2 linked regions of the Homo sapiens genome follow. The protein of the gene in region 2 interacts with the protein of the main gene of each other region in a pairwise test. Each region holds a gene or a part of one and is shown on either strand. Other genes may lie near its edges. The genes, in order: NR1I3 and SNX13.

What was found.
Region 1: the proteins of SNX13 (region 2) and NR1I3 interact in a two-hybrid assay, tested with the Homo sapiens proteins (one large-scale study listed by BioGRID and IntAct).

What each region holds. Positions count from the first base shown.
Region 1 is NC_000001.11:161,235,150-161,239,458, reverse strand, and holds the start of NR1I3 (nuclear receptor subfamily 1 group I member 3), read left to right. Parts: upstream 1-1,255; 5' UTR 1,256-1,398; coding exon of another isoform or gene 1,399-1,418; intron 1,419-2,860; 5' UTR 2,861-2,893; coding exon 2,894-3,000; intron 3,001-3,481; coding exon 3,482-3,612; intron 3,613-4,309. UniProt on the Homo sapiens protein: Binds and transactivates the retinoic acid response elements that control expression of the retinoic acid receptor beta 2 and alcohol dehydrogenase 3 genes.
Region 2 is NC_000007.14:17,797,211-17,801,028, forward strand, and holds part of SNX13 (sorting nexin-13), read right to left. Parts: intron 1,945-3,818; coding exon 1,799-1,944; intron 1,549-1,798; coding exon 1,480-1,548; intron 1-1,479. UniProt on the Homo sapiens protein: May be involved in several stages of intracellular trafficking. May play a role in endosome homeostasis. Acts as a GAP for Galphas.

The sequences.
Region 1 (4,309 bases), on a different chromosome or scaffold from region 2:
GTCAACATAAACCCCAGCTCTACTAAAAGTACAAAAATTAGCTGGGTGTGGTCGCTCTGTCACCCAGGCTGGAGTGCAGTGCTGCGATCTCGGCTCACTGCAACCTCTGCCTCCCGGGTTCAAGTAATTCTCCTGCCTCAGCCTTCCACGTAGCTAGGAATACTAGCGTGCGCCACCATGCCTGGCTAATTTTTGTATTTTTAGTAAAGACAGGGTTTCACCACGTTGGCCAGATCTCTTGATCTCATGATCTGCCCAACTCGGCCTCCCAAAGTGCTGGGATTACAGGCATGAGCCACCCCGCCCAGCCAAAAAAAAAATATTTTTTAAAAATAGCACTTTATTATTATTATTATTAGAGATAGGGTCTTGCTATGTTGCCCAGGTTGGATTCAAACTCCTGGGCTCAAACCATTCTCTCCCTGTCTCCAGAGTAGGGGGATGTACAGGGCATGTCACTGTGCCCTGTGGTCACTCTGATTTGATTCTCAGCCCTCCCTAGTTAGGAAGTGAGAGGGCTCTTTCCGTAAGCTCTTACTTAGATCGTAGTCTCTCTCTCTCTCTCTTTTTTTTTTTTTTTTAGACGGAGTCTCACTTGTTCTGTGCCCAGGCTGGAGTTCAGTGGCATGATCTCAGTTCACTGCAACCTCCGCCTCCCGAGTTCAAGCAGTCCTCCCACCTCAGCCTCCCAATTAGCTGGGATTACAAGTATGTGCCATCATGCCCAGCTAATTTTTGTATTTTTAGTAAAGACAGGGTTTCACCATGTTATCCAAGCTGGTCTCGAACTACTGACCTCAAGTAACCTGCCTGCCTCAGCCTCCCAAAGTTCTGGGATTACAGGTGTGAGCCACCGTGCCCAGCCCCTAGTCTCTTAAAAACTTTTTTTGGGGGAGCCTTGTGGAACTGTCACACCTCTTCTTTTAGTACTGACATACTGCGTGTGAAAAAGCTTGCTCTGTCTGTCTGCCTGTCTCTCTCTCTCTCTCTCTCTTCCCAGCTTGTTCAGGATCTCTGTACACAGAAGGCTGCAGATGTAGCCTTAAACTCATCAACAGGGAAAATCTCGATGAGTCTAATAAGCAGCAGCTTCCAATGAGTCACAAGGTTCCCACCCACTGGAGTCCCTCCCCGTGTGCCACCAACCAGCACTTTTGTCATGCTGGGAAAACCTCCCACCCAGGCCTTTGCCCTGAGTCCAGGGTCTGTGCCCTAACCCCACAGTCACTGAGAGCAACTGGAGGCCACATAAAACAGACATCTCTTGTTTTCCAGATACTACGGGTCATAATCCCTAACTCCAATCACTGGCAACTCCTGAGATCAGAGGAAAACCAGCAACAGCGTGGGAGTTTGGGGAGAGGCATTCCATACCAGATTCTGTGGCCTGCAGGTGACATGCTGCCTAAGAGAAGCAGGTAGGAAATCTGTTGGGGACCAAAGACTAAATGTAATAAAATACAGATAATGCTGGGGGCTAGGCATAGTGGCTCACGTGTGTCATTCCAGCACTTTGGGAGGCCAAGGTGGGGGGATCGCTTGAGCCCAGGAGTTCAAGACCAACCTGGGTTACATAACAGACCCCATCTCTACAAAAAAGAAAGAAAAGAGGCCAGGCGCGGGAGCTCATGCCTGTAATCCCAGCACTTTGGGAAGCCAAGGTGGGAGGATTGATCACTTGAAGTCAGGAATTTGTTTTTTTGTTTTTTTGTTTTTTGTTTTGTTTTTTTGGGTTTTTTTTGAGATGGAGTCTCGCTCTGTCGCCCAAGCTGGAGTGCAGTGGCGCAATCTCGGCTCGCTGCAACCTCTGCCTCCCAGGTTGAAGCGATTCTCCTGCCTCAGCCTCCCAAATAGCTGGGACTACAGGCACATGCCACGATGCCCAGCTAATTTTTGTATTTTTAGTAGAGACGGGGTTTCACCATGATGGCCAGGATGGTCTCGATCTCATGACCTGGTGATCCGCCCACCTCGGCCTCCCAAAGTGCTGGAATTACAGGCATGAGACACTGCACCAGGCCTAAGTCAGGAATTTGAAACCAGCCTGGCCAATATGGTGAAACCCCATCTCTACTAAAAATAAAAAATTAGCTGGGCATGGTGGCGGGCACCTTAATCCCAGCTACTCAGGAGGCGGAGGCATGAGAATCACTTGAATCTGGGAGGCGGAGGTTGTAGCGAGCCAAGATTGCACCACTGCCCTCCAGCCTGGGTGACAGAGCAAGACTCAATTTCAGGGAAAAAAAAAAAAAGGAAAGAAAGGAATAAGAGAGGGAGGGAGGAAGGAAGGAAGGAAAAGAAAAAAATATCCTGGTGTGGTGGTGTGTACCTATAGTTCCAGCTACTCAGGAGGTTGAGGCAGGAGGATCCCTTGAGCCCAGGAGTGTGAGGTTACATTGAACTATGATGCACTCCAGCCTAGGCAACACTAGGCAACAGAGTAAGACTCTATCTCAAAAAACAGAACAAACAAATAAACAAAAAAAAATAAACAAAAAAACCAACCTGGGCAACATGGCAAAACCCCATCTCTACAAAAAAAATAAATAAATAAATAAACAAAAATTAGCTGGACATGGTGGTCTGGACCTGTAGTCCCTGCTACTCAGGAGGCTGAAGTGGAGGATTGCTTGAGCCCAGGAGGCAGAGGTTGCAATGAGCAGAGATCTAGCCTAGGTGACAGAGCAAGAACTTGTGTCAGAAAAAAAAGAAAAAGAAAAAGAAAAAGAAAACCACAAAAGATAACGCCAGGGATCAAGTCAAGGGCATGTTTGGTTTGGTTTGGAAAGAGACTCTCTAGAAGGGACAGAAAAGGGTCAAGGGTGGCCCAAAACTGACTGCTGACCCCTCCTACATTCAGGAGTCTGTGACAGCCACCCCAACACGTGACGTCATGGCCAGTAGGGAAGATGAGCTGAGGAACTGTGTGGTATGTGGGGACCAAGCCACAGGCTACCACTTTAATGCGCTGACTTGTGAGGGCTGCAAGGGTTTCTTCAGGTGAGAGTCTCCTCCCCAATGGAAATAGCCCTCCAAACCAAACTCCCTATTAGTCAGCCTTTACACCCTCGCTGGTGCCCAAGCCTGTCCAGCTACATTACTCCTTTATCTTAGAGTCTAACTACCCTGTGGCTGGCATCCTACATCTTGCCAAACACATCACTGTATAAACTGGTGGCATAACAGAGGGAAAGCTGAATGTTTGTCTGATGGACACAGCCCATTAGTCAAGAGCATTTATTATGTACCCACTGCCTGTGAAGCACCTAGCTAGTACTACATCAACTAGGCTTTCTGGAGTGATCCTGTGTTGCCATGGAAATGCTTGAGATGTGTTGGATACTATCCACCCCTGGGGACCTTTGGGCACAGCTCAGATTAGTCCATTTCACCAGATTCCCAGGTCTTTTAGACCATGTCATCTCAGCCCCTCACCTATCCATTGCATCCCAGACTCTAACAACATCTCTGTGTCTCACAGGAGAACAGTCAGCAAAAGCATTGGTCCCACCTGCCCCTTTGCTGGAAGCTGTGAAGTCAGCAAGACTCAGAGGCGCCACTGCCCAGCCTGCAGGTTGCAGAAGTGCTTAGATGCTGGCATGAGGAAAGACAGTGAGTTGGCCCCCTACATCTCAAGAATCCATTGACTGCGTCTGTCTTTGTCCTTGTTCCCAACAGTGCATTCTCTACATAGCAGGCACAGTACTCTTTTTGAAACTAGTTGGATTATGTCACTATTCACTCAAGACATCCAATGGCTCCCCATCTCAAAGTACGTGATCTCATGATCTAGCTCTCCCACAACACCTTTCAGACTTTATTTCATACTCTTCCCCCTTTACTCAACCAATTCTAGCCACACTGACTTCACTGTCATTCTTAGAAACACCAGGCCGGGCGCGGTGGCTCACGCCTGTAATCCCAGCACTTTGGGAGGCCGAGGCAGGCGGATCACGAGGTCAGGAGATCGAGACCATTCTGGCTAACACAGTGAAACCCCGTCTCTACTAAAAAAATACAAAAAAAATTAGCCGGCCGTAGTGGCGGGCGCCTGTAGTCCCAGCTACTCGGGAGGCTGAGGCAGGAGAATGGCGTGAACCCGGGAGGCGGAGCTTGCAGTGAGCCGAGATCGCGCCACTGCACTCCAGCCTGGGTGACAGAGCCAGATTCCGACTCAAAAAAAAAAAAAAAAAAAAAAAAAACACCAAGCGCACTCTTCCCCAAGGCTTTTCCACTTGCCATTTCCTCTACCTGAAATGCTTTTCTCCTAGATAGCCACATGGCTAGTCTTGTCTTTTCTTTTCTTTCT
Region 2 (3,818 bases):
TATGTACATGACTATATCACAGCCATTTAAACTCAAAGTGGGCATCTGCTGATTGAACATCTCATCCAAATGCAACCCTACAATATCTTGAATCTCAATGCCTTAGAGTTTAATAGCTATCTCCTTCAGTTATGCCATCCCACTCCTCTTATAATTAAGCCTACATAATACTAAATTCTAAGCCCACAACTTACAGATGGATTGACTATAATGGTCCTTTCACAAGTAAAACAACCCATTCTTCTTAACTTTCAGTGTGCTTTACTCCTGTTCCCTAATTCTTGGTCTGAAGGCAGGGACTGAGCACAAAAACTAAGCTTTCATCTGGGAATTTGGTGTAAGGGCAAGACTCCCCAGAGCAGCTGTTCTTAACTTTACACATTAGAAGCACCTGAGAGCTTTACAGGCTCTTCATGTTCAGGCCTTTCATTGGATTAATTAAGTCAGACTCCCTGGACATGGGATCTAGGCATTAGTAATTTTTAAAGCTCTAGAGGTGATTCCAATGAACAGCCAAAGCTGATAATCACCACTCCAGAGGAACATCATTTACCTACCCTGAAATAAAATGAACATGCCAGGGCAGCTAGTCCAAGTTTTGGAAACAGTATGGTACAGTGGGAAGAAACTTAGCTTCAGATTAGAGAAACCAGATTCCCCACTTTGTAGCCTGAGAGCCTATTCAACTTCTCTAATCCTCAATTTCCTTATAACAAAATAGAGACAAAAATACCTACCTCGAAAAATGGCATAAAATCAGAAAGCATACATAAAGTACTGTGCACAGTGCCAAGAACTTAGTGTTCAATACTGATAGTTCCCTTCTTGCTTCCTTTCCTTCCCTTCAAAATACATGATGCCATGAATTTTTACGCATTGCTTATCTTCACTTTCAGAAAAGAGGTTTATTTCTCTACTATCTGTACTTTCCTCAAGGGACTGCATCTTATCTCAGCAATGGGCTGAGTGCTAGGCACAGAGGAGGCGCTCAGTATTTTTTGTAGAAAGAAATATGAAGTAGGGTACCTACTTAATTTTTGTTCCTTGTAGAGGTTCCAATATTTAATAAAAAATTACAACATAGCCAGAGAGACTTACTTAAAACAATTTCATTTAAAATGAAGGTTAGAAAATACAACTGAGAAAAACTAATCCCCAAAACTAGATATTTGATGATACAACCATATCATTTTTAGGTGAATATTTCAATTATCTTACAGCCATGGTACTGTGATAAAATGTAGCCTATCATTTGAAAGATCTTTCTTCTTACTTTTCCTATTCTGGTTTTAAAGAAACAAAGATCAATAGGTTCATAAGACAAATGTTTAGTATAATTCTTAGAAGTCTTTTTGCTCATCAATGATAACTAAACCAACTTTATGTCCAGGAAGGAAACAAAAGCAATGAAAGTTAATTAGTGATAACAATGCTAAACTCTGTACTACCTGAAAGAAGTGACTGTGTCTTAAGATATACCTGAAACGTTTCACTGAGTCGGCTACTTGTTCAGGTGAAGTCATCCAGTCAACATGGTCAACTATTTTTCTGAAAGTAAATTAATGTAAATGAGGAAGGTTAAAATTTTAGAAGGTGAAAAAAATAAACGTGACTTTCATAGAGCAAGCAACTTAATCTGGATGTAAATTATCCCTGAGAGCAACAGACTGCTTTAATGATGTCCTTAAAAGGCCCAGAGAAAAAAATTCTCCTACAAAGGTTGAGCAATCTACTTCCAGAAGTAAGAGTTTAATAGCTAAGTAAGATCAGATTAAAAGCGAGGAGGAAAGAGTGCTACCTATTAATAGTATCGCCATATGTAGCTCTAATAAGCTGTTGAAGTAGGTTTTTGATATTCCTTCGCAACCACTGATTTCTTTCTTTTAAGTCGAATACTTCATCCATGAGAAGCAGCATTACCCTAAGTGGAATATTGTCATCCACCTGACAAAATATAAGAAATAAGAATAAGTTTGAGTTAGCTATCTACTATGAATTGTTACTTTTGTTGCTTTTACGAAATGATTGATATTTCACAAGTCAGAGAACAAGTTACATTTTAGCCTTTGTAACTTGACATTAAATTCTAATGTAGAAAAAATATTTCTAGTAGTCATTCTGACAGAATACAGAACTTCATAGCCCCACAATAATGAATAAATTTTAAGGCTATAGTTTAACATTTTCAAGGCAAAGTAGATTCATGATGGTCCTAGGAAAAGATGATTTGGTTCTTACTATTGGAAGAGACTGTATGAGTTTGATAAGGCAAATGCTAGACCCTTTGTCTATTTTCTGATGCATCTTTTTCACAAGAATAAGATATTCTCAACATCTCCATATATTTAATAGAACAAAACATGAATGATACAGAATAATGTATTTTGCTTAGTTAGTAAATTGTATGTATTTATGTACTTTCAGGAAAAAGATGCTGAAGTTCAATCCATCACACAACTAAATTCACATTACAAAAGGCATAGTTTACTAAATTACTAGAATTTTCTTTTAGCTTTTAGCAAATAAAAGTCAGTATTATGGGAGTATACAACCACTAAGTATACAACCACTAAGGTAAAAAGGAAGACGATCGGAATGCTTTGATGCAAAAAAATACGTATAAAATAAAAAGCAGGTACAGATTTAGTACCACATATAATTGTTAGTAATTTTATAATTTTTTCATCACTGAGAAACTGTTTCCAATTATTTCCTCATCAACACTGTAATTTAAATACTGGCAAGAAAGCATGAGTTATACATTTTTCACTGTCACGTTACAAACATTTCCTTAGTGCACCTTCCATTTCAAAAACTGAAATCATACAGCTTAATCAAAACCAGTAGGGAGAGGGAGACCCATTTCATTACTGAGACAGAATAAAAACTTCTGTATTCTCTGATCAAGTATATTCCTACGAGTTTGGTGCCATATGAAAATCTAATAAATAGCTAAACTGTAAAAACCACATACCAAAGGTACAATGTTATGGATATTATACCATCAATAAACATAATAAACATCCTAAAATAATCTTGAAAAACCAAATGAAAATATTATTTTTGATTAAGACAGTTGATTATAAACAAATTCGATTAGAAACAGAAAGGAGATAATTACAACTTAAAATAAATCTGCCTAATAGAACAGAATAAAACAGATCCAAACATATATGGTAACCTGATTTGTGATAAGGGAGAAACAGTACAGTGGGGAAAAGATGGCCTTTTCAGTAAATGGTGCTTGGATCAACTGGACCCATACTTCAATCCATATACAAAAATCAATCCCAGATGAACTGCAAACTTAAATGTTGTTACAGTAAAACAAAAAATGTTTTTAAAGAAAATTATAGGACATCTCTGTGACCCTGCAATAGGCACAGATAACATATATAGCACAAGAAAGAAACCTAGAGAGAAGACAATGTATTACATATATCTGACAAACAACTCACATTCAGATTACATAAAGCACTCCTACTAATCAAAAGAACTAAGATAGCTAAGAACTAAGACAGCTAAGCCAACAGAAAAATGACAAAAGGTCTTGACAGACGCATAAGACAGAACATTCAAATGGCCAATAAACATATAAAAAGGTGTGTAACATTTCAACAGTTATCACAGAAACGCAAATTCGCATGAAATATAACAACCAGAATGGCTAAAATTAAAAAAACAAAATACTGAGTACTGGCAGGATGTAGAACACTGGAACTCTCATGTACTGTTGATGGCAATGTAAGTGGTACAAATAATTTGAAAAAGTACTTGGCAGTATCTACTAAAACTGAACATATATATATATATATATA